Homo sapiens: one gene and its partners. The protein of the gene in region 4 interacts with the protein of the main gene of each other region in a biochemical or structural test. Each region holds a gene or a part of one and is shown on either strand. Other genes may lie near its edges. The genes, in order: SMAD2, RNF11, SMAD1 and SMURF2.

Evidence for each region.
Region 1: the proteins of SMURF2 (region 4) and SMAD2 form a complex in vitro, tested with the Homo sapiens proteins (3 studies listed by BioGRID and IntAct, with this or other methods).
Region 2: the proteins of SMURF2 (region 4) and RNF11 form a complex in vitro, tested with the Homo sapiens proteins (3 studies listed by BioGRID and IntAct, with this or other methods).
Region 3: the proteins of SMURF2 (region 4) and SMAD1 form a complex in vitro, tested with the Homo sapiens proteins (2 studies listed by BioGRID and IntAct, with this or other methods).

The regions. Positions count from the first base shown.
Region 1 is NC_000018.10:47,843,639-47,850,666, forward strand, and holds part of SMAD2 (mothers against decapentaplegic homolog 2), read right to left. Parts: intron 5,050-7,028; coding exon 4,837-5,049; intron 2,163-4,836; coding exon 2,025-2,162; intron 1,847-2,024; coding exon 1,702-1,846; intron 1-1,701. UniProt on the Homo sapiens protein: Receptor-regulated SMAD (R-SMAD) that is an intracellular signal transducer and transcriptional modulator activated by TGF-beta (transforming growth factor) and activin type 1 receptor kinases.
Region 2 is NC_000001.11:51,232,306-51,239,284, reverse strand, and holds the start of RNF11 (RING finger protein 11), read right to left. Parts: upstream 3,013-6,979; 5' UTR 2,529-3,012; coding exon 2,406-2,528; intron 1-2,405. UniProt on the Homo sapiens protein: Essential component of a ubiquitin-editing protein complex, comprising also TNFAIP3, ITCH and TAX1BP1, that ensures the transient nature of inflammatory signaling pathways. Promotes the association of TNFAIP3 to RIPK1 after TNF stimulation.
Region 3 is NC_000004.12:145,512,841-145,519,868, reverse strand, and holds part of SMAD1 (mothers against decapentaplegic homolog 1), read right to left. Parts: exon of another isoform or gene 6,387-7,028; intron 5,432-6,386; 5' UTR 5,256-5,431; coding exon 4,856-5,255; intron 2,856-4,855; exon of another isoform or gene 2,675-2,855; intron 1-2,674. UniProt on the Homo sapiens protein: Transcriptional modulator that plays a role in various cellular processes, including embryonic development, cell differentiation, and tissue homeostasis.
Region 4 is NC_000017.11:64,554,291-64,561,318, reverse strand, and holds part of SMURF2 (E3 ubiquitin-protein ligase SMURF2), read left to right. Parts: intron 1-3,596; coding exon 3,597-3,711; intron 3,712-5,320; coding exon 5,321-5,499; intron 5,500-6,325; coding exon 6,326-6,463; intron 6,464-7,028. UniProt on the Homo sapiens protein: E3 ubiquitin-protein ligase which accepts ubiquitin from an E2 ubiquitin-conjugating enzyme in the form of a thioester and then directly transfers the ubiquitin to targeted substrates.

The DNA of each region.
Region 1 (7,028 bases), on a different chromosome or scaffold from region 4:
TACCCACATATCCACAGATAGATGGATATTTGCCATTTTGATTTGTAAATGTTACAGGAAACTACTTGATTTTCCAAAGTCAGATGTACCTGACTCCCAATACTCATAAAAACATACTGCATATTACTGCTTCTGTAATTACAGATTTTACTTTATCTGTGAGTTAAAGAACAGCAGAGTCCACAGTGAATGAAGAAGGGCAGTATCTTTACCAAGTAAAACTGTTCTTAGCAGATCTATAGATACACATGGAATTCTCTCTGTAATTCACTCTTACTTCCACTAAATTCCTACCATATTTTGCATTATTCTAACCTTCTGAAGAACAAAAAAAAGTCTGACCTGAAATCTTATTAGACAATATAATTTAAATCTAATTTTGCTATCAACTCAGGTCAAGTCTAATTTTAAAAAACGGCATTCAGCATTCTTAACAGGTAACAACATCTCAAAAGGGTAATAATCAAAACAGAACTACAGCAAAATCACAAAATGAATTATTCTACCAATATAACTCAGAAAAAAATAGTGACAAGTCTTCATTCTCTGATACAAATATATACCATATATTTTTAAATGTATTCAACAAGTAGACCTCACATTGCACAATCTCAAATCAGATTTCTGACAAAACTTAAGATAGACAAGCAAGTCCAAAACAAATAAATTTGGAAGGGACTAAATTGCTGGAAGAAGCAGGAATACAATCACTATATTACATGAATATTTCTTAAGCAGGCATATGGAGTAAGCAATACGAATTGAAGAAAGACTAAGTATTTTACTTAATTCCTACTCTTAAATATGGTCAAGAAGTCTTCTCTCTCTTTGATGTGAAATCCAATCTATTGTTTAATTCATCAATAATCTAGACTATCTTATCCACTGATGACAAATTAGTTTTTGTAAAACTTAAACATAATTGTTACTACTATCCTTATAAAAGAGGTAAAGAGTCCAGGAGAACTATCTTCCAGTCCCATCTCAACCACTTATAATGTAACCTTGGGCAAATTATCAGCTTTCTATGTCTATTTCCAAATATGTATTAGTTTGAACCATGTGTTACCTGCAACGATGGCAATTTCATATATTTCAACCTTACAAAGAATGAATTGACAACAGAAATAATAATTTTTAGATACTACACTTAAAACAGCACAGTGCCTGGCACATTAGCAAGTATTCCTTCTACTTCTGAATGAAGTTCCTCCTCTTAACCTACATCTAGTTTGTCTCAATTTAATTGTCCAGCCTTATTTTTCTATTCTCCAAACTGAATTGCTATGCTATTGTCAAGATTATCACTTCCCAACTCTGCCCACCCCATTTATGACTATTGAAATCCAATGCACCTTTTACAACTAGATCATGTGCCATCAAGTTTTCCTTGAGCACCGTGTGCAAACATCTCTCCTTCCATAAACTGACATAACCCTTCATATACACCCCTTTTATGATATTTAACACTCTGAATTACGTTAAAATGCACGCCTGTGCATGTTTTAATATCTTCCATAATGGCAGCTCAGTAATTTGCAACAGTTTTGAATTTGGAGGCCTCCAACTTTATTTTACATAAAGATCAGCTGACTCTATAACCTCATTGAAAATAGATACAAATGAACTCCAGAATATGCAAGAATGCAATGAAACATAATTACACTGTGGAAATTTAAGAACCAAATATGTATTTCATACCGGTATTCTGCTCCCCACCCTTTCACAAAACTCATTCTTATGGTGCACATTCTAGTTAGCTGATAGACGGCTTCAAAACCCTGATTAACAGACTGAGCCAGAAGAGCAGCAAATTCCTGGTTGTTGAAGATCTTCAGATTACAGCCTATGATTAAAAAAGGTAAAAGAAATTGTCAAAAGAGTATCATTATTAAAAAGTAATTTTAAAAGGGTTACAAGTTTTAGAATATGAGCATGCAATCATCTACTGATTCCTAAAATTAGCAACAAGAAAAACTAAGCAAGTTGACATGATAGGTTTATGTACATTATTGAATCCATACCTGGTGGAATTTTACACACTGTTGCAGGGTGCCAGCCATATCTCTGATTACAATTGGGGCTCTGCACAAAGATTGCACTATCACTTAGGCACTCAGCAAAAACTTCCCCACCTATGTAGTATAAGCGCACTCCTCTTCCTGAAACAAAATACAAATGAGATTAGTTTTGTAACATTTACTATTTCAGTGTGACTTTGGAAGCATTTTCTTGGAAAAATTCTAAAATGATATAAGGTATTTCCAGGATCTTTTTCACAGATAATGTCTTTCTGAAGTCTAACTTTAAATATACTACTGTATATTTCTCCCAAGTATTTTCTAACAATAATTTTATTGATTTTAAAATACATGTGTACTGACTGAAAGTATTTAAACAATGTAGAAAAAGTACACATAGTAAAATAGTTTCATACAAATGATATATATTAAGATAAGTAAAAGATTGAGTTAATTTTGAAGGAATTCACTAATGTTTGGAGAAATATATCTTCATTACAACTGTAGTTTCTTAGAGATCCCACTTAATGTTAAGAAAAAAGATGTAAAAACATCAAAAAGTCATTTGCCATTTTAAAAACTATATATTATGGTGGAAACCCAACCTCTAGATGTATAAGCATGATTAGGTGAGAAAAAATTCTACTGGGAGATTTTTAATATACTTCTTTCAGAATCTGAGAGATCACAGATGCAAAATAATATGAGATATAAGAATTAAAAAAAAAATTGTGAGAAGCAGAGTTCTAACATGACACCTAAGAGTCTCAGCCCTGAGGTGCACATACATTCTCTGTTAATCAAACACTAGGTGCTGCTGTTAAGGATTTTTTCAGATGTAATTAAGGCAGCAAATCAGTTAACCTTAATCAGGCAATCCTTTAAAAGGGACTAGACTGTCATAGGCTAAGTGATTCAAAGCATGAAAGGTATTCAACACAAGAGACATTCTCCATTGCTGACTTTGAAGATGGATGGCACCATGTGACAAGGAATTCAGGAGGCATCTAGGAGCTGAATTCTGCCACAACCATGTGGGTTTAGAAGAGGACCTCAAGCTCCAGATAAGAACACAAGCCAGCTGATACCTCAATTTTGGCCTTGTTAAACCCTGAAAAGACCGCCTAACCCATGTCTGGACTCCTGACCCACAGAAACCGTGAGGTAAAAAACTGATGTTTTAGGCCACTGAGTTTGTGGTAATTTGTTACACAGCAAAAGAAAACTAATCAAACAACTAACACTCCAGATTTAATACAGAACCTGGTACGGTGGTTCTGTTAAGACTATGGAATATCTGTAAAACAGTCATGCACGTGGTCATTGGGAAAACACTAAGTCCAAAAAGTAGAGATTTTTCAGGCTATATTCCCTGATCAATATCACCTATAAAACTAGAAATAAAAAATTTAAAAAAATCCAATAACGACAGCAATCTAAAACTTTGGAGGGAGAAGAGAATAAGGCAGAGAAAACCCATTAAATTTTTTTGCAGAACCCCAATTAAGTCACAAAAACAAAAAACTATTTTAGTTAAAGCACCTACAGCGACACTGGGTATCTTAATAAGATTATCCAAATTTATACATCAAGCAAGATTTGAGAACTTCCACTTGGAACCAAGTAATAGATCTTCTAGTCACTATCATTTTGCAGTATCAAAATCACACTTTGATAACCAGCATTACTTCTCACAGGAGGTAATGGTTAATTAGAAAAAAAACAGAAGCAAACTACTGTTAAAAGAAGTTACTTTAAGGTGATGAGAATGATGTTCAATTATGAATGGTTCTCACACTTTTTCACTTCATCGTTAAGGAAATACTGAGGACCCCAAAGAGCTTTTGTTTATGTGAATATTATGGAAAATGACCATATTAGATATAAAAACTGAGATTTAAAAAATTCATTTAAAAATCAAATCCATTACATATTAACAATGTTTATAAAAAACAACTGTATTTCCAAAGCAAAAAAAAAAAAAATAGAGTGGCAACATTTCACCATTTTTGTCTATGAAAAACAACTATATTTCCAAAGCAAAAAAAAAAAAAAAAAAAAATAGAGTGGCAACATTTCAACATTCATGTCTAGTGTAACAGAATTGGAGTCTCATTATCAAATCTACATTTCATCTCTTGCAAAATCATATGCATGTAGGCTCTGGAATACTCCACTGTACAGTCATGAGAGTATGAGAGTAGAAATGGCAAACAGCATCTCAGTACTACTATGAAAATAGCTTTGACCTCACAAACTAGCTGAAAGGGTTTCTGGGACTACCAGAAGTCCCCAGACCACATTTTGAGATGTCCCTGAATTATATTTTGAACTATATTAAATGCAGTTCTTGTTTTAGATATCTCATTTCAGATGAACAGCAAGCAGATTTCATTTAATATATAAACTCACCAAAGGGGGAAAAAACCTGGGAGCTATATAAAGAAACTGAAAAAAAACAAAAACAAAACAAAACAAAAAAACATGATTTATAAAAAAGTATTAACCCCCAAATCTGAACATGGCAATTTTATGACTGGTAGAGACTCAGCAAATTAAACTTATCTTAACACATATTTATTGAAGAACTTTCCAGTACCAAGGGTGCCAAATAAAAGTTGAAGAGTTTGCAGCTGAAGCATCACCAGGATCTATTAGAAGCAGTGAAGCCTGTGCACTTAAATGTGTCGGCACTTAAACCACCAGAGAGAAAGCTGGTTTTACTGCACACAAGCTCTTGATGTGGCACACCATGCAATGCCTACATTATGAGTATACAGCATTTATTTTTCACAACAAGGAAAATAAAACATACCTATATGCCTTCTTGTCATTTCTACCGTGGCATTTCGGTTAACATTGGAGAGTAAACCTAAGCAGAACCTCTCTGAATTTGATGGGTCTGTAAAGCCATCTACAGTGAGTGAGGGCTGTGATGCATGGAAGGTTTCTCCAACCCTCTGATTTAATTCATAATATGCTATCGAACACCAAAATGCAGGTTCTGAGTAAGTAACTGGCTGTAAATCTGAAAAAGAAAAAAATAAAAAAATAATAAAAGGAAGAAATGCGTGAACAATTCAAGCCAAAAATAGATTTAATATAATCATCTTTACATGCTCTATGCCAGCCTGCACTGGCAAAAGCTCAGGAAGTAGACATAGTATCTGTATCGGTTTCCACAGATGATACCAGATTTTCAGTATTTTTCACACAAAACTCCAGTTTCATAGATCATACCAGATTTTTTCAAATTTCTCCCATGTCATTAAATCACTTTATGTTGGATTCTTTGTTTTACCAGTAGTTTTAGTCTAGCTCCTGTTCAAATACAAAACAATCATAGGCAAAGTCAGTCAACTTGCCATACTTGGTGCATTTCTAAAGCACATAAAAAAGCTAAAGTGGGGTAAGATAAAGCCAGAGCAAAGATTAATGAGTCAAAAGCCACACAAAGAAAAACAGTAATAATAAAAGGATACAAAATATGACATATTTTTGACATTTGTCTATTTTAACATCAAACTCTTGGTGAGATACCCTAGCTACAAAAAGAGAAAACCCACTCATACATAAGAACCAGAAAGCAGTAACACACAAAGATCATGCAAGTAGAAACAGACCATAGAGTCAAAAGACTACTTATTTCACTGGAAAACTATATATTTAGCTTCTGCAGTTTGACTAAAACATATCATAAGGAATACTGCAAAAGAAAAAAACCTCACAATTTTGTAGAATAAATTCCAAACATGTAACAACCGAAGAGAAATTGTGAAATAGGGTAAAATGAGGGCAAAAATAATAATAGTAATACAGAAATGTATGTATATATATATATATATATATAGTCATCCCTTGGCATTTACAGGGGATTGGTTCTAGGACCGGCTCCCCCTAACTAAAAACCCTTAGATGTTCAAGTCCCTGACATAAAAGGGTGTAGTATTTCCATGTAACTTAAATTCACGTCATCCTGTATACTTTAAATAATCTCTAGATTACTTATAATACCTAATAATATAAATGCTATACAAATATTTGTTATACTGTATTTTAAAATTTGGGCCCAGCACGATGGCTCACGCCTGTAATCCCAGCACTTTAGGAGGTCAAGGTGGGTGATTCGTTTGAGGCCAGGAGTTTGAGACCAGCCTGGGCAACATAGTGAAACCCCATCTCTACTAAAAATACAAAAATTAGCTGGGTGTGGTGGCATGCACCTGTAGTCCCAGCTACTCAGGAGGCTGAGGCAGAGAATTGCTTGAACCCAGGAGGCAGAGGTTGCAGTGAGCCGAGATTGCGCCACTGCACTCTAGCCTGGGCGACAGAGCAAGACTCTGTCTCAAAAAATAAATAAAAATAAATACAATTTGTATTAGTTTTTACTGTCGTATTGTTATTTTCATTTTTTCCCGATTATTTTCAATCTGCAGTTGGTTGAATCTGCAGATGCTGAACTCATGGTTATGAAGGGACCATACACATACACATTTGTACATATATGTGCACACTCTCATATATATATTATATATAGTATATATATATTATTATATATATGTATAATATATATTATATATTATATATTATATATATTATGTATAATATATATTATATATTATATATATTATGTATAATATATATTATGTATGTTATATACATATTATGTATAATATATGTTATATATATTATACATAATATGTATAATATATATTATATATATTATATAATATATATTATATATTATGTATAATATATATAATATATTATATATATTATGTATAATATATATTATATATTATACATAATATATATTATATATTATATATTATGTATAATATATGTTATATATATAATATATATTATGTATAATATATGTTATATATATAATATATATTATGTATAATATATATTATATATTATATATATATTATATATATTATGTATAATATATATTATATATTATATATATATTATATATATTATGTATAATATATATTATATACT
Region 2 (6,979 bases), on a different chromosome or scaffold from region 4:
CCTAGTTCTTCTGGAAAAGGCAAACACAGTTTCCATAAATTCTAGTACCTTTAATAGTACAATTATCATAAGGATAGGAGAAAGAGAACAAGTCAAAGATATTCAATTAAGAAAGGGGATAGGAGGCAGGAGAATTTGCTTGAGGCCAGGAGTTCAAGACCAGCCTAGGCAACATAGGAGTCCCTGTCTCTATTTTTTTAAAAATAGAAGGGGGTGAGGGTAGGGAGCATAAGAGATTTTAAAATAAAAACTTCATGCCAGATGCGGTGGCTCATGCCTGTAATCCTAGCACTTTGGGAGACTGAGGTGGGTGGACTGCTTGAGGTCAGGAGTTCAAGACCAGCCTGACCAACATGGTGAAACCCCGTCTTTACTAAAAATACAAAAATTAGCTAGGTGTGGTGGCACGCGCCTGTAATCCCAGCTACTCAGGAGGCTGAGGCAGGAGAATCGCTAGAACCCGGGAGGTGGAGGTTGCAGTAAGCAGTGAGATTGTGCCACTGCACTCCAGCCGGGGTGACAGAGCGAGACTCCATCTCATTAAAAAAAAAAAGTTAAATAAGCACTTTTGTTGTATAGTAAACATAGGAGGGAAAGACAGTGAAGGATAAACATAGCTTGCTTGCTTCACTCAAAGGTACTTGTAAAGACACCCAGATTCAGCTTTGATTTTTAAGAGACTACCCTGTGACAACTTACTTTGGAAAAAATATTTGTGTAAATACAGAAAATACTAAATTCAACTTCATTAATTAATTCAGCATTTAGGTGCTTATGTGCCAGAAACTGAGCGAGGGGAGAGTCCCTGTTCTCAAGGGCTTTTACTCGTAATTTATCTCCCAGTTACTGAGTCCCTACTGAGGCAGATGCGAGGGATACAACAGCAAACCGGAAACACAGATTCTCTACCTTCACGCAGCTTGCACTGAAGGAGGCGATTACAAGGATGAGACACACATCTAACAAAGATACAACACTAAAGTGTTATAGATATTGCTTATGGAAGTGTAGAGGTTTCAGTGGGGACACAAGGGATTCGGGCTGGGAAGGAAGGGAATGCTGGGACTTCAGACATGAAAGCTGAGTTCTCAAAGAGGATTAGATGTCCACCTGGCTGACCCGGGCGAAGGGCTCCAAGCAGAGAGGAACTGGAGCAAAACAAAGCTGTGAACAGCCTGGTGTATTTGGTAGGCCTGGAATATAGAACGTAAGAGGGAGAAGTCATGGAGGCTTCTGTAATACCACAATCAAGACTGGACCTTACTGGTATATATGAAATGCCCCCAGAAGAATTTTATTCAGAAAACGAGCATATATATGATCAGGTTTTTCTGGTGTGATGAGACATTGGTTTACACAGGAATGAGAAAAGAAAACACTAGATAATGATGTCATCACATGAAACAACAAAGGAGCCTACCCAGTCAGAAAACTAAACTCTTCAGGAAGAAATTAAGCACTACTACTATTGAAGCCCTCTGGAAAAGGGTGTATTCAATATCATCTAAAATGGAAAAAGTACAGGAAAGGTTTTCACACATCTATTGTGGATTATAACATCCACATACCTATTTTGAGTTTAAGAGGTCTTCACTCGAATTCTGCAACACATCTGGGACTACTGATTATTGTACAAAAAGCAGTACAACGTATTTAGGAGAGTCTTTGATACAAAGGGAGAACACGAGTAACCGAAGGAATTTCCCAAGCCAGGTTTAAAGGTTTCCAAAGTTCAAGCTAATCAAGTTTTCTTAAGTCAGCACGTTTAAAAGGTGTGTCATATGGGTGGAGCAAAAAGAGGAGGGATTAAAATTTATATACATATATATATATATATATATACACATATATATATATATACACACACACACAAGTAACTCGATGTCGCTAGGGTTAAAATCACCACTTGGAGATCCGTCTCCCAAGCAGAGGGAAAACCTGCCAGATCCAATTAACAAAAAGACGAGGGAGGTGGGTAAGAGGACGACCACACATGAAAACATAAATGGGGCGGGGGGGTGGTGCTTGGCAACCACCTATCCAGAACCCATAATCCAGTTGGCGGTGCGATGAGGAAATCATACGATTCAGACATAAAGACAGGAAAATGTCACTCCCAAACTCCACAAGCGAACCACCAGACACTGGCCAAGGGGATGTGATCACATACTCTGATCCCAGAACTCAAGGGCAGAGGGTATCATCCCCACACGGTGCCCGAGGGCAGGCGAAGAATCAACCTTACTCTGAGATCAGAGAGCAAATGCCCTCAGATCCAGCCCTAAGGGGTCAATGCCGCCCAGGCCAGGCCTTGCCGAAGCCAGGGGCAGAGACGGCCCCGAAGCCCCCTCAATCTCCGCCAGAGCTGCCTCTACTCGCTCCCCCCAACACACACCCTCCCCTACCTGATATGGCGGCGGCGGCTCCTGATCCGGCTCCGTCCCCTCGCCAAAGCTAGCCCGGTCGGACTGAGACTCGTGAAGCAGGGAGATGTCATCCGAGGTGGGGGATTTGAGGCAGTTCCCCATCTTCCGGAGCTGGGGTGCGTGATCTGGGGGAGGAGAAAGCAGCGGTGGGGTCGTTCGCACACTCCGCGGTCCGCCTCGGTTGGCGAGGTGGGGTCGGGCGACAGGCCGGGGATCAGGCGGAGGCGACTCCACCGCCCCACGGTGCCGCCGAGGGGCCGCTCATGCCAGCCCCCGGGGTTGGGGGATCAAGGCTGGGCCGCGGGCTCCGCTGGGGTCGCGGCGTTCGCCTCCTGCGAGGCAGCGATGGGGGGGGGGGGGCGGGGAGACGAAGCACTTCCCCACCCCGCCCCCCCGCGGGGCGGCGGCGGCCACGGAGCTGCTGGGCCTAATCCAGGTCAGCGGGGGGGGGCGCGGCCGTCGCGGCTGCCTCAGCTGCTGCCTCAGCTGCTGCTGCCCCCGCCGACGCCGGAGCCACGGCCGCGGGCCTCATCCTACTCCGCCTCAGCGAGACGGCGGCAGCCAGAACGAGGCCGGCTCGGGCACTGCGTCATCGCGCCGTGCGTGCTCTGGTCCCGCCCCCGGCGCCAGGAGGCGAGGGCGGCTCCGGCGGCGCCCATCCCCCTCTCCACTAGCAGCTGTTCTCGGTGCTGCGTCAATTTTTGCTTCTCTCTGACTGCTTGGCTCCGTACCTGGCTCCGAAACCAATCTCCCGTCTCCCGCGCCTCCCCACATTCATTGCTCCTGCCCCGTCTAGGGCTCAGTTCTTACCTGTGCACTGCCTGACAGTCTTCTCACCACCCTCCGCCAAGCGGTCTATTTATATAAACCCATATCGGAATGGATCAGTCCCATGATTAAAATGTTAAAAGCTTCCCCTTTATCCCTTCACAATAAAGTCCTAGCTCGTTACTGAACCATCCCTGCCTGTCCAATCACGTCCTTATCCTTCCACATCACAGCCAGAGAGATTATTCTTCCAGTTGTATATCAGATTGTTCATTTCTTTCCAGTCCCAGCACCAAAGTCCAAGCCACCATCATCTCTCACCTTGGCTTCTGCAATAGACTCTCAGCTGTTCCTGAGTTCATCATTGCCCACATCCAATTCACTGTTGGCACAGTTGACAGAGTTATCTTTTTAAAATTTAAATCGGATCATGTCATTCTCCTGTTAAAACCTTCAGTGTCTCCTCAAGGCTGTCCTTAAGACAATCCTTAAATGGTTTACAAATCTGACTCCCTTTCAATCTCATTAGCAGCATTGTCACCTCCTTCACAAATTCTAAACTAGACTCTCTAAAATGCTTTTCGTTATCTGGAATACTATTGCCTCTGCCTGGGGCCTTTGTCCATATTGTTTCTCTCACAGAAACCCACTTCCCTCCACTCCCAACCTTTCTGCTTCTCATCAGGCTAATCATTATTCTCAGGAATCCTTCTGGATGCAACTTCATTTCCCCTGGGGAGACTCTCCTGACCCTCCAGTCTGGGTTAGTCGCATCCTGTGTGCTCTCAGACCCTGAGCTTTTCTCTGTCACAGCCTGATCAAGCTGAATCATCTGTCCCTCTGTGCAAGGCTGGCACACTGCCCAAGGTAGAGTATGCTCTCTCCTTGGTTGAATGAGCAGCTCAAACAACATATGCAAAAGAAGGAAGCAAGAAGGATGACAGTGCTCCTGATAGACGTTCATTCAACAGGTGGATCTTGACTGCCTTTCGTTTCATTCACCATTTACTGAAGTTGTGTGTGCGTGTGTATACCAGACCCCACGCTAAGGACTGGGGAAAAGGATGATCATACCTGGCTTGTTCCTGATAGAGCCCAGAGACCACCTGGGAAGACAAGTAATCAGGTGAGTCCTAAGCCCACACCCTGCCACGGACCCCAAGGTTTTTAGAGGAACTGAAAGACAGCAATTAGTTCATTTGAGTGAGGAACAGAAAGGATTCTTAGAGGTAGGGCTATATTAAACTCGAATGGGTCTGAACACTCTTACTCTGCAGTCCCTATTCTACGAAGTCACTATCTTATTTAAATGCACTCAAATTCCACATTAAATATCACCTTTTTGATATAAAATTTTTGAAAAGACTCATAATTTTGGGCCAGGCGTGGTGGCTTACGTCTGTAATCCCAGCAATTTGGGAGGTCAAGGCGGGTGGATCACTTGAGGTCAGGGATTCGAGAGTAGCCTGGCCAACATGGTGAAACCCCATCTCTACTAAAAATACAAAAACTAGCCAGGTGTGCTGGTGCACGCCTGTAGTCCCAGCTACTCGGGAGGGTGAGGCAGGAAAACCGCTTGAACCTGGGAGGTGGAAGTTGCAGCGCAGTGAGCCCAGATTGTGCCACTGCACTCTAGCGTGGGCGAGGGAGTGAGTAAGACTCAGTCTCAAAAAAAAAAGGAAGGAGAAAGAGAGAGAGAGAGAAGGGAGGCAGGAAGGAAGGAAAGAAGGAAGGGAGAGAAAGAGAAAGAGAAAAGAGAAAGAAAAGAAAGAAAGAAAGAAAAGAAAGAAAGAAAGAAAGAAAGAAAAAGAAAAAGAAAGGAAAGAAGGAAAGAAAGAACAAACTGACTCACAATTTTGGTTTTGGAATTGTTGAGCTTCCAAGAACTCATTTAATTTATGATTGGCTAAATTTACCAGAAATCAGAGGTACCCTGGAATTTTTACAAAGTGAGAAAATTTACCCCACAAATTATTGTCAAACCTAAAGAAATTTTTATTAATAATAATTTATACAATTATTTGACATAATATTTACACAGTGCTAGAATTTGTAGACATTGTTTGTTTGTTTTGGAGACAGGGTCTCACTCTGTCACCCAGGCTGGCTTGATCGAGGCTCACTGCAGCTTCAACCTCCTGGGCTCAGGTGATCCTCCTGCTTCAGGCCTCTCCAGTAACTAGAACTACAGATGCACACCACCATGCCTTGCATTTGTTTTTGTTTTTGGTAGAGACGAAGTCTTGCCATGTTGCCCAGGCTGGTCTCAAACTCCTGGGCGCAAGCGATCCTCCCGCCTCAGCCTCCCAAAGTGCTGGAATTACAGGTGTGAGCCACTGTATGCCTGGCCAGACATAGATTTATTTAGTTAGTTTTAATTTTTTTTAATTTTTATTTTTTGAGACAGAGTTTTGCTTGTGTTGCCCAGGCTAGAGTGCAATGGTGCGATCTTGGCTTACCGCAACCTCTACTTCCCCGGTTCAAGCAATTCTCCTGCCTCAGCCTCCTGAATAGCTGGGATTACAGGCGCGCACCACCACGCCCAACTAATTTTTTGTATTTTTAGTAAAGACGGGGTTTCACTATGTTGGCCAGGCTGGTCTCGAACTCCTGACCTCAGGTGATCCACCCACCTTGGCCTCTCAAAGTGCTGGGATTATAGGCGTGAGCCAGCTCGCCAGGCCAGATTTATTTTTTTAAGTTTTGTTTTTCATTCTTTTTTTCCACAGGTGGGTAACACTGACACAAGCCCTTGAAAAGTTCTATAGTGCCTTGTGAAAATAAGTTATATTGTTAAGTTTAAAACTAGCTTGGGCTGGGTGCAGTGGCTTACGCCTGTAATCTCAGCACTTTGGGAGGCCGAGGCGGGTGGATCACGAGGTCAGGAGTTCAAAACCAGCCTGGCCAATGTGGCGAAACCCCATCTCTACTAAAAATACAAAAATTAGCCGGGCATGGTGGCATGCACCTGTAATCCCAGCTCCTCAGGAGGCTGAGGCAGGAGAATCACTTGAACCTGAGAGGCGGAGGTTGCAGTGAGCCGAGATCACGCCATTGCACTCCAGCCTGGATAACAGAGTGAGACTCCGTCTCAGTAAACAAACAAACAAACAAGGCTAGTTGTTCACCAGAAGATGGGAGGAGCATTTGAAGCCCATTAATGGCTTGGACATGGTCCCTGCCTTCAAATAGCTCAAACTCAAGTAGATGAGACAAGTAGGTGAACAGTTAGCAGGGCTACATTCAGACCTTTATATTTGTTCTACTTTTATTTTTAACTTTTGCTTCCATGAGCATATATATATCACTACCTCACAAAGGTACAGCTTTAGACCTCTGTGTCTGGTGAGAGAATAACTGTTGCATATTCCCCTGAGCTCAGAGGAAATGATATTTTAGAAAAGATGAATGGTTATTGACCATTATTTTTTTGTGGATGAGTAAAATATCAGCTACAATTTTAACATAGTTTAAAAAAACGATAGAATTTTGTTTTGTTTTGTTTTTGTTTTTTTTGAAACGGAGTCTCACTCTATCACACAGGCTGCAGTGCAGTGGCACAATTGGCTCACTGCAACCTCCACCTCCTGGGTTCAAGTGATTCTCGTGCCTCAGCCTCCTGAATAGCTGGAATTATAGCCGGGGTCCACCATGCCCAGTTAACTTTTTGTATTTTTAATCAAGATGGTGTTTCACCATGTTGGTCAGGCTGGTCTCGAACTCCTGACCTCAAATGATCCACCTGCCTTGGCCTCCCAAAGTTCAGGGATTTCAGGCATGAGCCA
Region 3 (7,028 bases), on a different chromosome or scaffold from region 4:
AAAATAGACTCATAAAAGTAGAGTGTAGAATTAGAATGGTGGTTATCAGGGGCTGCAGGGAGGGGTGAACATGGACAGAGGAAATGCTGGTCAAAGGGTACAAACCTTAAGCTAGAAGTAGTAAGTTTTGGTGATCTATTGCACAGCATGGTGACTATAGTTAATAATACATTGTATATTTCAAAATTGCTAAAAAAGTGGGTTTTTTTTTTTTTTTGATACAGAGTCTCTCTCTTACCCAGGCTGGAGTGCAGCGACATGATGATAGCTCACTACAGGTTTGACCTCCTAGGCTCAAGTGATCCTCCTGATTTAGCTTCTGAATAGGTAGGACTATAGGCACATGCCACCATGCCTCGCTAATTAAAAAAAAAAAAAATTAAGACGGGGTCTTGCTATGTTGCTTAGGCTAGGGGTGGATTTTAAATGTACTCACCAAAAAGAAATTAGTATGGTGAAAAAAAAAAAGGTTCAGCTGGGCTCAGTGGCTCACGCCTATAATCCCAGCACTTTGGGAGGCCAAGGCAGGTGGATCAACTGAGGTCAGGACTTCGAGACCAGCGTGGCCAACATGGTAAAACCCCATCTTTACTAAAAATACAAAAATTAGCTGGGCGTGGTGATGCACGTCTGTAATCCTAGCTACTCGGGAGGCTGAGGCAGGAGAATCTCTTGATCCTGGGAGGCAGAGGTTGCAGTGAGCCGAGATCATGCCACTGCACTCCAGCCTGGTCAACAGAGCGAGACTCTACCTCAAAAAAAAAAAAAAAAAAAAAAAAAGCCAACCAAACAAACAAAAAAATGGTTCAGAGAATAGGCAGTAAAAAAAAGAGAAAAAAAGAAAAAGAAAGAAATAAGCAAATACACATGGGAGGTGACAGATATGTTAATTAGCCTCATTTGATCATTCCACAATGTATACATGTACCAAAACATAACACTGTATTCCACAAATATATACAATTATTTGTCAATTTAAAAATAATAATTAGCTTTTCTAACAAGTTCCAAGGTGGTACTGATGCTACTACTCTGTGGACGACACTTTGAAAACCACTACTCTAAACCTAAATATTCTCAATTTTTGAGTTTTTTTCAAGAGTCATTGAGACCTCAGCAGAAGTCACCAAGTTTGGGAGACTTAAATATGTTAAACTGCTAAACTGTTCTTTGAGATACTTCATCAGAAGTAAAATAGTGACAAAGTTCAAAATAATTCAGTGTTGAGCTGTGTATATGTGCAGCTTAGAATTCCAGACCCCCTTTTTCTGATTTCACAAAAACAATACCCAGGTGTACTCTGTACGGCTTTATAGAGGGCTTCAATTCTGGCAGTGTGAGGGGCTAAGTCACCTTGCACATTTTTATTTTTTTTTTTTGAGATGGAGTTTCACTCTTGTCCCCCAGGCTGGAGTGCAATGGCATGATCTTGGCTCACTACAACCTGCGCCTCTCAGGTTCAAGTGATTTTTCTGCCTCAGCCTCCCGAGTAGCTGGGATTACAGGCGCCCCCCACCTCGCCAGGCTTATTTTTGTATTTTTAGTAGAGATGGGGTTTTACTATGCTGCATTTTTTTAACTTTATTTTTCTGAGACAGAGTCTCACTACACTGCCCAGGCTAGAACGTAATGGCTATTTACAGGCATGATCATAGTGTGCTGCAGCCTTCAACTCTGGGGCTCAAGTGATCCTCCCACCTCAGCCTCCTGAGTAGCTGAGACTACAGGCATGTACCACCACATCTGGCTGCCTCTTGCACTTTGATTTAGTAGAGTTTCTCTTCAGAAGGTACAGGGACTGCTTCATAGTGGTCTCTGGAAAAAGTCCTTTGTTCCAATTCCCACATCAGTCACTTCATAATGTGAAAAATATACATAAAATCTTGATATGTTCAAATTAAATAGATCTTAGCCTCAGCCTCCATGTTTTCCAGAACTGTTCTATTCTATCCATGACTCACAAGATTCCTGGGTAAAGGAGAGGCTGAAATGGCATTTGTGGAGTCTCAAAATGCCTATGTAAGCCAGTTTTCCACCTCTTCCCCATTATTTTATTAGCACATATGTTATTAAGAGTAACAAATTCATCTCAGTATTGGTTTTAACTTTTCACCTTGTATCAGAGGTGTAATAGCCATAAAATGACCAAAGAAGGGAAGAAGATGGTCAAAAGGTATAGATAAACTGAAAATTCAGCACTAAAAAAATGGCCAAATGACGATATTAAATTAAAAATCAGCATCACCATTTAACAGCAAAAATTTATCAAATTATGCTTGTTGCTAAAAATAGAGATGTTAATTATACACATAGTCCCTGCCCTCATGGAGCTTTATTTACTATCTTGCAGAGAAGACCAACAGAACAATCATTATAAGTGTGAAGAACATTCTAAAGAAATTCAGGTTGCTATGGGAAATGAGACCTAACCTCCCCAAGCAGAGTAGGGAGATATGTGTGAAGTAGGAGGTATCAAGAAAGGTTTCCCAATGAAACTGACCTCCATCACACAATTACTTAGTTTATTAAGTAATGACCATGTGCTAGACACAAACGATAAATAAGAGTGGGCTAGACAAAGAGGGAGGAGAAACAGGTACAGATAGAGGAAACGTGCATGGAATGTTTCCAGAGAACTCAAGCACACAAAGCATGCAAGAGTACAAAGGAAGTTGGAAAGGGAGGAAAGGACCAGAATGTGCAGACCTCTCTAGAGGACTTCTCAAGAGTAGGGAAAAGTAGGACAACAAGAGGATCATGTCTGCATCTTAAAAGATCCCTTTCTGTAGACAATGGACTGAAGGGGGTGACCAGTCAGGAGGCAGTTGCTGCATTGCAAGATGAAATGCTGGAAGGTTAGCGCAGGGTGAGGGGGAGTATGGATGGAGAAGACATATTCATAGTGTCTTTTAAATAGTGAATTTTGCCTTTCATGTCAAATGCCTCTATTTTCTAGTTCTAACACAAGGCACTTAACTTGTAGGGGCCTCAGTTTCATCGCATATGGAGTAGAATTAAAATCTTACCTATGTATTAATACATTTTAAGGTTACTACGAGGATCAAAAAAATCATGTGCCTAAATAATATTGCTGGTACATATTACTTATCTACTACATTTTACTCTCCAAAACTCTTAGCTCCATTTCCATTTCTGGCTAGAAGAGGGACATGTACCTCTGTGCTGAGTTTAGAAAAAAGAACACTGCATCACAGCTGATATAACAAGCAGTAAAGAACGTCTATATCCAAACTGGTAAGGAGAATTCAGCACAGTTGTTAGAAAAAAGGCAATGCTCTCTTAACCAAGAGCAACTGTAACAAAATGTAACTTTTAAAAGGATACAATAAAAACCAGTTATCTAGAAATAAATCTAGTAAGTGCAGGAGCTGTATGGAGAAACTTAAAAGTGCACTAAATAATATTATGCTCAAGAGCACAGTAGGCCAATCTTCCCCAAATGAAATCAACGAAATTCCAATAAATTCCCAAAGTGTTTTTCATAGGACTTAACAAGGTAATCCTAAAGTATATAATCTAGAAATCACAAAAACGTAATGTTGGATGAACATAAGTTGTACAAAGAAACTCCAATATTATGTAACATTTTTAAATATATAAAATATTACATATTGTCATGGACTCATACATATGTAATAACAGTATAAAAACATGCATGAGAATGATAAGCGTCAGATTCAGAACAGTGGTTACCAAAGGGAGCAGAATCAGAGGAGCAAAAACAGGGGTTCCAGTTTACACGTAATCTTTTATTTCTTAAAATGAGTAGGGGATACAGAGATGTTTGTTATACTACTGGTCTTTAAAATCTTTTTTTAAAATATGTCTTAAATATTCCACAAAAATACAGAATGCCTTTTATTTGAAAACCATGTTATTACATGATCTAGTTTAGTAATTCCTAAACACCAATCCAATAGCTACATCAGTAACACCTGAAGTACTTGTTAGAAACAAAGATTACCAGGCTATCCCAGGATCAGGATTTCTGGGAGGAGAGCCATGTGATTCTAATATACAGCCTTAGTAACCCAGGAACTATTAACAGCCAATCCATCAACAAAATTGGTCCCAATCGACAATGAGACATTTAAGTGCTTGAATATCTAATCACTTTCCAATGATCCAACTCTCTAGAATGTAGATTCTAACTTGAGGGCAAAACCGTATAAATTTTAAAATATATCCTTTACCATACCCTCCCAAAAGACTATACATGTAAAAACTGGGTATATTTTATAAAGTAATAGCATCAAATGATTCCATAGAAGGATATAATTCCTTCATATTCACCATAGGAAATATGCCACAGCAAAATTCCGCCAGAGATGATAAAAAGTGCTGTTCTTAAGTTCAGAATGGTTTAAGTCACTGGCAACTACCCTCATGATGTACTTCCCTTAAGCATATAGACAGCAATAATGCATTTCTTTCCTAATTTTCTTCCCTTAGAATACAATTCATAGCTAATTTTATCTAGAGAAATGCAGAGAACCATGTGAGACATAAAAAATAAATTTAGAAAGAAAACAATTTATTAAAAATTAGAGGTATTAGTACTGCAATGACAATTGTCATAGCCTGCTCCCAAGACATAATGTTAACTAGAGATGACTAAGCTGTTAAAATGTATGAAACACTCAGGGGCTTTCTCTCTTGCATTCACACAGACACACACACACACACACACACACACACACACACACACACACAGTTTCCCCAAATATTTTTAAATTACAACTAAAAACAAGCAAAGGGATTATTTTCATGTTCTAAACAACACAAATCTGGTACTGGGCACACAAAGCACATCAACATAAAATAACTCACTTACCAGGGCTTTCTACTCTCTTATAGTGGTAGGGATTGATGCAGACCTCCTTCTGCTTGGAACCAAAAGGAAACTCACAGCATTCCAGTGGTTTTAGTTCATGGTGGCTCTGAAGATCGGGCCAGCGCCACACACGGCAGTAAATGACATGAGGCAGTCCCTTCCGGTGGGAGACTTGCAGCCTGCCATCCAGAGAGCGGGGAATGGTGACACAGTTACTCGGTTGCCCTGGGCAGCTCAAGGCCTTTTCCAGTTCCTCCATGGCACCTTTCTTTTTCTTCAGTTTTTTCACCAAAGCATCAACAGCTTTCTCTGCCCATTTTTCTTCTTCATCGCCCTGTTTCCACCCAAGAAGTCTCTTCACAGCTGGACTTGTAAAGGAAAATAAACTTGTCACATTCATAATGACAGCACTAGTTATACTCCTTGGATATGGTGAAATAAAGCTGTCTCCAAATGCAAAAGGACAGCAGAAGAGATTTGTTTATTTACAGAGAAGTCTCTTTAACTTCTTAGTTTGAAGTCCAGAAGAGTAGAAATTACCATTCCTAGTGTTTAAAAAAGTAACCCAGTCAGCACCTACAAAACAAAAAAAGAATGGTTAGAATCATCTTTACCATACAACCACATTTATTAAGTAATCACCATGTGCTAGGTACTATTTTAAGTGCTTTTATGTAATACAGTATGCTGTGGACTGAATTGTGACCCCTAAAATTCATATGCGGAAGCCCTAACTCTCAGTATGACTATATTTGGAGATGGAGCCTCTAAGAAAGTAATTAAAGTTAAGTAAGGTCATCAGGGTGGGGCCCTAACCTGATAGGACTGGTGGTCTTAAGATTGCTATCTCCCTCCTCCAGCCTCTATGCACACACACTGAGGGTACTGCAAGAAGGTGATCATCTGCAAGCCAGGAAGAGAGCCCTCACCAGAGCCTGTATTGTCCAGAACCTTGATCTTGGACTTTCCAGACTCCAGAACAAAGAGAAAATCTATTTCTGTTATTTAAGCCACCCAGTCTATGATATTTTATTATGGCAACCAAAGCAGACTAATATATAGCATTTAATGCTTTTCACAATCCTTTGAGTTAGGTAATACAATTGCTGCCACTTTACAGATGAGTAAACTGAGAAGCAGTTTAAAAAGTAAGCCACTGTTAGCAAAAGCTCTGGGATAAAAGCAACAAAGTTAAAAAGCCCAAGTTCTCAAAAGATATTGTAATATTTTAGATTTAGATTCATTTATAACCTCTAAAAATATATTTCAAAACACCTCAATCAACAAAAACTGAAAGCAACAGGGAGAAAAAAATAGTCTAATATCTCTGTTTTTTTGGTTTGTTCTACAAATATTTCTTAGGCTAAAAGAAAATTCCTCTTATATAAATGTAGTAATATTTTAGGGTATTTCTTCAGTGAACAAGCCTGTGTCTATGGGCTACAGGACAAATAGGATAGGAAATACATCTCCTGCTTTAAAAATGTTGCTATTTATTGACATAAAAGGAATAAAGCACATGGACACATACTGTACCAAATTCTTTAGCCAAGTTGCCTCATTTAAACTGTTTACTCTTTAGCACATGAAAACATAAAATGTGAAAAAGGTTAAGGAGGTTAACTTTGTACAAACCCTGGCTAAACTGGAGTAGCACGTATCAGACCAACCTCCTTCCAAACAAACAAGCCAGAAAACAAACAAACAAAAGCCCAGCTTTTTAAAGGCATCAAAGAGGAACCAAGGCACTCAGGACTTGAGGGGGCCAAGATCCTGGAGAGAGGGGAAATGCAATGAAGTGAGCTGAATATTCGTCACCACTCTTTCCAGGGATTTGCCAATAGCTATGCTATGAGCAGCAAAAGGTCTAGGAGCCGAGCAGAAAGAGGTAACTAAGAGGCTAAAAACTAAGCAGAGCTTCTAGTAGCCTCATAGCGCTGAGGAACCCCAAAATAACAACACAGCAACAAATGGAGTTGAGGGCCTGCTGAGGAGAAACCCTGGTAAATAGTCTAGGCTTTCAATGGAAGCTCCTGGAGGAATATGCCCCAGTCTAAGGGCAAAAATGAAACGGATCAGTCTTTACAACCAATCTAGAATCATCTTAATCCTAGCCTTGGTCTAGGTGATGGGTATTGCTCTCTAACAGCTTGCCAGAAGAAAAACAAATTCT
Region 4 (7,028 bases):
GTATTCTGGAACTCCCCAGTAGACCATCTGAGTCCCATGAGACTGCAGGCCCTGTGTTTTCTCCATCTCTCTCTTTAAGTACATTATTGCCTCTGCTTTACATTGTCAGGAACAGTTTTGAGATTTAAATGATATATAACCTGAACTGAATACTGGTTCTCTTTGCTTCCATTTGTTATGCCTTTTTTCCTTGTTAAATGAATGTGTATGCATGCATGTGTGTATACACATGTACATATCATGATGGTCCTCAGAATGTTTCAGTACAGAAGGTAGAATGCTTCTGCTACATTTGTAACTCACAGGTCAAGTCAAATTAATTTTCTTTCTTTTTTTTTTTTTTTTTTTTTTTGGAGACAGGGTCTCCCTCTGTCACCCAGGCTGGAGTGTAGTGGCGTGATCTCAGCTCACTGCAACCTCCCCATCCTGGGCTCAAGAGAGCCTCCCACCTCAGCCTCCTGAGTAGCTGGGACTACAGGTACAAGCCACCACACCCGGCTAGTTTTTGTTTTTTTTTTTTTGTAGAGATGGGGTTTTGCCATGTTGCCCAGGCTATTCTCGAACTTCTGAGCTCAAACAATCTGCCTGCCCCAGCCTTCCGAAGTGCTGGGATTACAGGTGTGAGCCACCACACCCAGCCAGTGATTTATTTCTGATATTATATTTACTACAAGAATTCTTTTCTATGTGTGAAAATTCGTTTTATATAAATGGAGAAACACTGTAGCTCTGTATTGAAATGTTCCAAGGATCATTGTGGTAATTCTGCTTTCCCTAATCTTAAATCCAACCAAAATTATGTTTTCAATAATTCCCATTAATTGTTATTTAGCATTACATGTGTGTATTTGTAGCCTTATTTTCATTCTGTCACCTTTTAAACCTACGGATGGATAGTTTCTTTAGTGTGGATTTTTAAAAATAATCCCTTGTACATCATACTTAGGACTTGACAGTTTCTGTGGAATTTGTATTACTTACTCATAACTAGAGTGAATGTTTATTGGGAACACTTCATCATCAACTACTGGTGGCATCTAAGTACTATAATTATATGTATAGATCAAATAAGTAGTTTATTTTATTTATTTAGTTTTTTAGAGACGGGGTCTCACTCTGTCACCCAGGCTCCATGGAGTGCAGTGGTGTGATCATGGCTCACTGCAGCTTCGAACTCCTAGGTACAAGTGATCCTCCTGCCTCAGCCTCCTAAAGAGCTAGGACTATAGGCACATGCTTCCATGCCTAATTAAAAAAAAAAAAATTTGGCCAGGTGCAGTGGCTCACACCTGTAATCCCAGCACTTTGGGAGACTGAGGTGGGCAGATCACGAGGTCAAGAGATTGAGACCATCCTGGCCAACATGATGAAACCCCGTCTCTACTAAAAACTAAAAAAAAAAGATTAGCTGGGTATGGTGGCGCACACCTGTAGTCCCAGCTATTCGGGAGGCTGAGGCAGGGGAATCACTTGAACCCAGGAGGCAAAGGTTGCACTGAGCCGAGATCGTGCTACTGCACTCCAGCCTGGTGACAGAGTGTGACTCCGTCTCAAAAAAAAAAAAATTTTTTTTTTTTTGGTAGAAACAGGATCTTGTGTTGCCCAGGCTGGTCTCAAACTCCTGGCCTCAAGTGATCCTCCAGCCTCCGCCTCCCTAAGTGCTGGAATTACAGGCGCGAGCCACCATGCCTGGCTCGTAGTCAGTTTTTTTTGTTGTTGTTGTTTTTGAGATGGAATCTCACTCTGTCGCCAGGCTGGAGTGCAGTGGCGCAATCTCGGCTCCCTGCAACCTCTGCCTCCTGGGTTCAAGCGATTCTCCAGCCTCAGTCTCCCGGGTAGCTGGACTACAGGCGCATACAACCACGCCTAGCTAATTTTTGTATTTTTAATAGAGACGGGGTTTCACCATGTTGGCCATGCTGGTCTCAATCTCCTGACCTTGTGATCTGCCCGCCTTAGCCTCCCAAAGTGCTGGGATTACAGTCATGAGCCACCGAACCCAGCCCAGTTTTTTGTTTTTTAACCTTACTACTGTCAGGGTTTGAGCAGAATAAATGGAATGTGACAGTGATCTGCTTTTTCTGAACTTTATTCCATAGTAGAATCTCAAAGTAGTTGAGTTCTGCTCTTATTTGTGTTCTAAATACTTGGTAAAACAAAACAAAAATTTGGATTTTCTTTTTAAAAAACACATACACACACCAAAAACACAAGACACATCAGATGAGTGTTATGTTGGGAAGGCTGCTTATGTGGAGACGTTACTTCTTTTTTTAATCTCTAGAGTAGTTTTTCAAATGTTACATAATGGTAGTAATTTAATTTAGACTCCATCACATAGAATTTTGAAACAGTTTCCTTTAACTAGTTTTAATACTATTCTGCATTTGCTCAAAAATATTATTCAATCTGTTTAATCCATAATATCAAAATATATCATTTAAATAACCTTCCCTAGCCAAGGAATGACAAGAATTAAGACTAGAACTACATCTCTTAAGTCCTAGACTAGTGAATTTCCAAAGTGAGTAACAAATTATCTTTTATACTTTGAAAAATTTGAAGGTTTTAATAAATTCAAGGTGGAAGTACTTTTTATTCCAGGTTTTAAAAACATTGATTTACATTGAAGTCAAGAAGTGGTATGGAACATACCCAAAGAATGCACGTTTGCCCTTGAGTCCATACCTACACCAAATGCCTTGCAATCCTTGCCCACTTATATTTTTATCATGGTATGTTTCAGGGTTTATACAGTGAATGATAATGAAATGAATAATGAAATGTCCTTAATACTACAACAAAATATAGCCTTGTCCAAAATGAAGAGTAAATCAATACTATATTATATGTCTGTATAAACTGGTCGTGATAGGAGTAGACCAGGATAATAGAGATGACGTGGACTTTTTTTTTTTTTCTTTGAGACAGGGTCTCTGTCACCCAGCCTGGGGTGCAGTGGTGCAATCTCAGCTCACTGCAGCCTCAACCTCCAGGGCTCAAGCAATCCTCCCACCTCTGCCTCCCAAGTAGCTGGGACTATAGGCACTTGCCATCAACCTGGCTAATTTTTGTATTTTTTGTAGAGATGGGATTTCGCCTTGTTGCCCAGGCTGGTCACAAACTCCTGAGCACAAGCGAACCACCTGTCTTGGCCCCCCAAAGTGCTGGGATTACAGGTGTGAGCCACCGTCCCCAGCCTCACATGGACATTTTGAAATAAAACCATATTCTTCCTTTTGTTTTATGTTTATTATGGATTACAAATTTATTTGGCAATTAAAAGTAACAGACCACTGGACCGTATCATCTCGTGAGTAGCTGAACTGTTGGATAATACTTTTATACTCTTTGATGCTAAAATATAATAAAATTGCCTAAATTTTGCGTGAGATGTTACTTCAATATAATAGAGTTTTTATATGCTATTTGGGTACGGTAGATTTTTCCAATGTGATCTTATATAACTGTAGTTAGTGCTTTTTTGCCTTTTATTAATTTAAATAATTATTTGCTAAAATGATTAGTTAATGACATATCTTAATAAAAATGTATACATTAACAAAAAAATTCCTTGGTCATATCTTGTTTTCTAGGGAATGGTTGTATCTCTTGTCACATGAAATGTTGAATCCATACTATGGCCTCTTCCAGTATTCAAGAGATGATATTTATACATTGCAGATCAATCCTGATTCTGCAGTTAATCCGGTATGATTTGAAGTTATGATGTGAATTGTGACCAATAATGCTTTTCATGTTTACATGTTAATGTAGTTTATTATATAGAAATTATTTGTCCTTGTCTTAGTTGTGCCCTTTGACTCAGCAATTCCCCTTCTATAAAATTTTCCCAAGCAGATGATTATGGATATATGCACCAATTTGGAAACAGGGATGTTTATTGTTTATAGTAGCACTCAACTGAAAACAACATAGTTGTCTTCAGGAGCGGGGACTGATTAAATTATGACATGAAGCAGAATAATGCAAATGATTAAAGGCATAGGTTCTGGAATTAGAAAGACGTGTCGTGGTCTCATCACTTACTAGCTTTGTGACCTTTCAGGGCAAGTTCATGGACTTAAGCTTCAGTTTTGTCATTGCTAATAAATACATTTGTACCTCAAAGAGGGGTTATGAGAATGAAATGGGACCCTGCACATTAAGCACTTAGCACAGTGCTGTATGTTATTCACTCTACAACTCTATCAACTACATTACTAAGCACTCAACAGAAGTTAGCAGTTATTACTAATGTATTGTTTTTATATTGTCTTTCCATATAAGGGCATACTATACAGCCACTAAAATGATAATGTGGGATAATAGTTAATGATATGGAAAGATGGTGTTTATGATGTGTTAAGTGAAACGAAGGTTATCAAATAGTATAATGCAACTTTGGTAAATATATATGTTTGTGTGCGTGCGCGTGTGTTACTTTTAAAAAAGAAACAAAAACAAGATAAAAGGTTTAAAGACGAGCTTAAAAGATTACTTAGTAAATAGAGAGGTAAAAGAATTTAAAAATACAAACATCTAACAAAACAATCTGTGACGAAAGACCAAATATATATAAAAGGGTAGAAATGTTAGATTTGTTTCAAGAAGTTATTTAGGGAGGATTTTGAGGTGAAGGTTCTTTTTGGAGGGCCCACTACTGCCCCTGTAGTAACAATAGCCCAGACTCATTGACTGCTTATAACATGCCAGGTCCAGTTCCATGGGTTTCAAACATCACCTCATTTTACTCCTCATAGAGATGCTTTTTAGATACTGTTATTATCCTCATATTTCCAGATGTGGACAGTTAGTCTTACGGGGGTTAATTTGTCCATATGCCATTGACTGGCAGAATCGTGATTCTAATTCAAGTCTGACACCAAGTCTGTGCTCTTAAATCTATGGTGTTTTGATGTTTAATTTCTGGTTAGGTCAAGGAAGTAGGGAGGTTTAGGATTGAAAGATTTTTTTTCATGACAAAGGGCTCAGCAGGAGGTGAGAGAAGGAAGAGAAAAGGATCTGCAAGTAGTTGAATGAAGCTCCGGGACCATAGTTTGGACTTAATTTCTAAAAGATAAAATTTACAAAATGACTGGCCCCTGCGAGAAGGGCATATTACCCTGTGTAATATGCTGTTCTCTGGTGATCTAGAGACTCTGGAGCATGCCCTAGAGAAATACTCCCTCCTGACTCTATTGAAGAGTAAAAATTTTATGCTTATTCTCAAAAAGATTAATGTTGCTGAAATATTTCATTTTTATTAAAATTTTCCTGGGTAGTGCCTAACGAGTATATATACTGTTTTCAATTTCAGGAACATTTATCCTATTTCCACTTTGTTGGACGAATAATGGGAATGGCTGTGTTTCATGGACATTATATTGATGGTGGTTTCACATTGCCTTTTTATAAGCAATTGCTTGGGAAGTCAATTACCTTGGATGACATGGAGTTAGTAGATCCGGATCTTCACAACAGTTTAGTGTGGATACTGTATGTATTGAGTCTTCTATCTCTTCATTATAAACTCTGAGCTTTAAAAAAAAATATGTTTCAAAACTGATGTACTTAAAAAAATTACACAGAAAATATTGAGTGGTTATTTGAGTGATAGGATCGCATATGATTTCCCCCTTTCCTGTAGCTTCTTTATACATTTCAAATTCCTTAAACTTAGCAAGTGTTACTACTTTAAAAAGGAAAAAACAACTAGTATATTTCTATTTTTAAAAGTACTTTATATAATTGTTTCCTCAATGTGATACAAATTCTGTTCCAAACCTGCGTGTGTTAGAATAGCAAATTCTTGGCTGCTGTTGCTTTTAATGAAGTGGCGATTGTTGGAACCGTACTTTTAGAATAAGAACTAATTGTTGAATTTAAGCTAAGAACTGATTCTGTTTTGCAAGAGGTCATTATTTTGTGAAGATACACTGGCAATGTTTATTTTTTATAAAGTATACAGTAGCTTTCTCACTAGGGATACACAGGCACTTGGCCCCTTGGAGTACAGTACCGAGTAGGGCTCTTCAGAATGCCAAATGTAACTGAAATTGTCCTATATTGGTGGTTCTAGCAAGGCCCAGCTTTGACCAAGGCTCTTTCTCATTACTCAGGAAGTTAAATGTTTTCTGTGTTTATGAAGGTTAAAGCTCTTTGACTTTTCTGTCCAGAAAGAACTAGGTGGTATGGAAGCAGAATCTGACCTCACATTTGTTATATTATAAAATGATCTTAGTTTTATCTCACCAATTAATACATCTATAGGGTCTGTATTTTAGGTTTCCCAGTTACATATCTTTTCCTCTTTCCTATCCAGTGAGAATGATATTACAGGTGTTTTGGACCATACCTTCTGTGTTGAACATAATGCATATGGTGAAATTATTCAGCATGAACTTAAACCAAATGGCAAAAGTATCCCTGTTAATGAAGAAAATAAAAAAGAATATGTCAGGTAAACACTCCTGTGTTCTCAAGGCTGAATTTTTTAAAATGTTCTAGAATGTTAGTATGAACAAACTTAAATATTTAGATAGTACTACTTAGTGTTACAAAATCCGCTTCAGGAGAATTTAGTGGCTTATTTAGAACAGACATTTTATTATTTCTCACAATTCCATGGGTCAGGAAATTGGGCAAAAGAACAACATGGATGACAACACTGGTGTTCCACAAGATGTCAGCTAGGCCTGCAACACCAAGATGGCCTCTTCACTCATAACTAGGATAACTCAAATGGCTGAGGGCTAGCTGGCATGGCTGTTGACTGGGGTCACTGTCTGGGGCCTTGTTCTCATTGTTGGCTGAGTTCCTTGGTTCTCCCTATGTGATATCAAAGGCCATTCCCTCTCTCCATGACCACTCCCTCTCCCCATAGCCACTCCCTCCCCCCATAGCCACTCTCTCTCCCAACAAGATAGCCAGACTTCTTATGGGGTGGCCAGCTTTCTAAAGCTCAAAAGCAGAAGCTGCTAGATCTTTTTAAGGCCTAAGCCTGGTCCTGGCCAACATGACTTCTG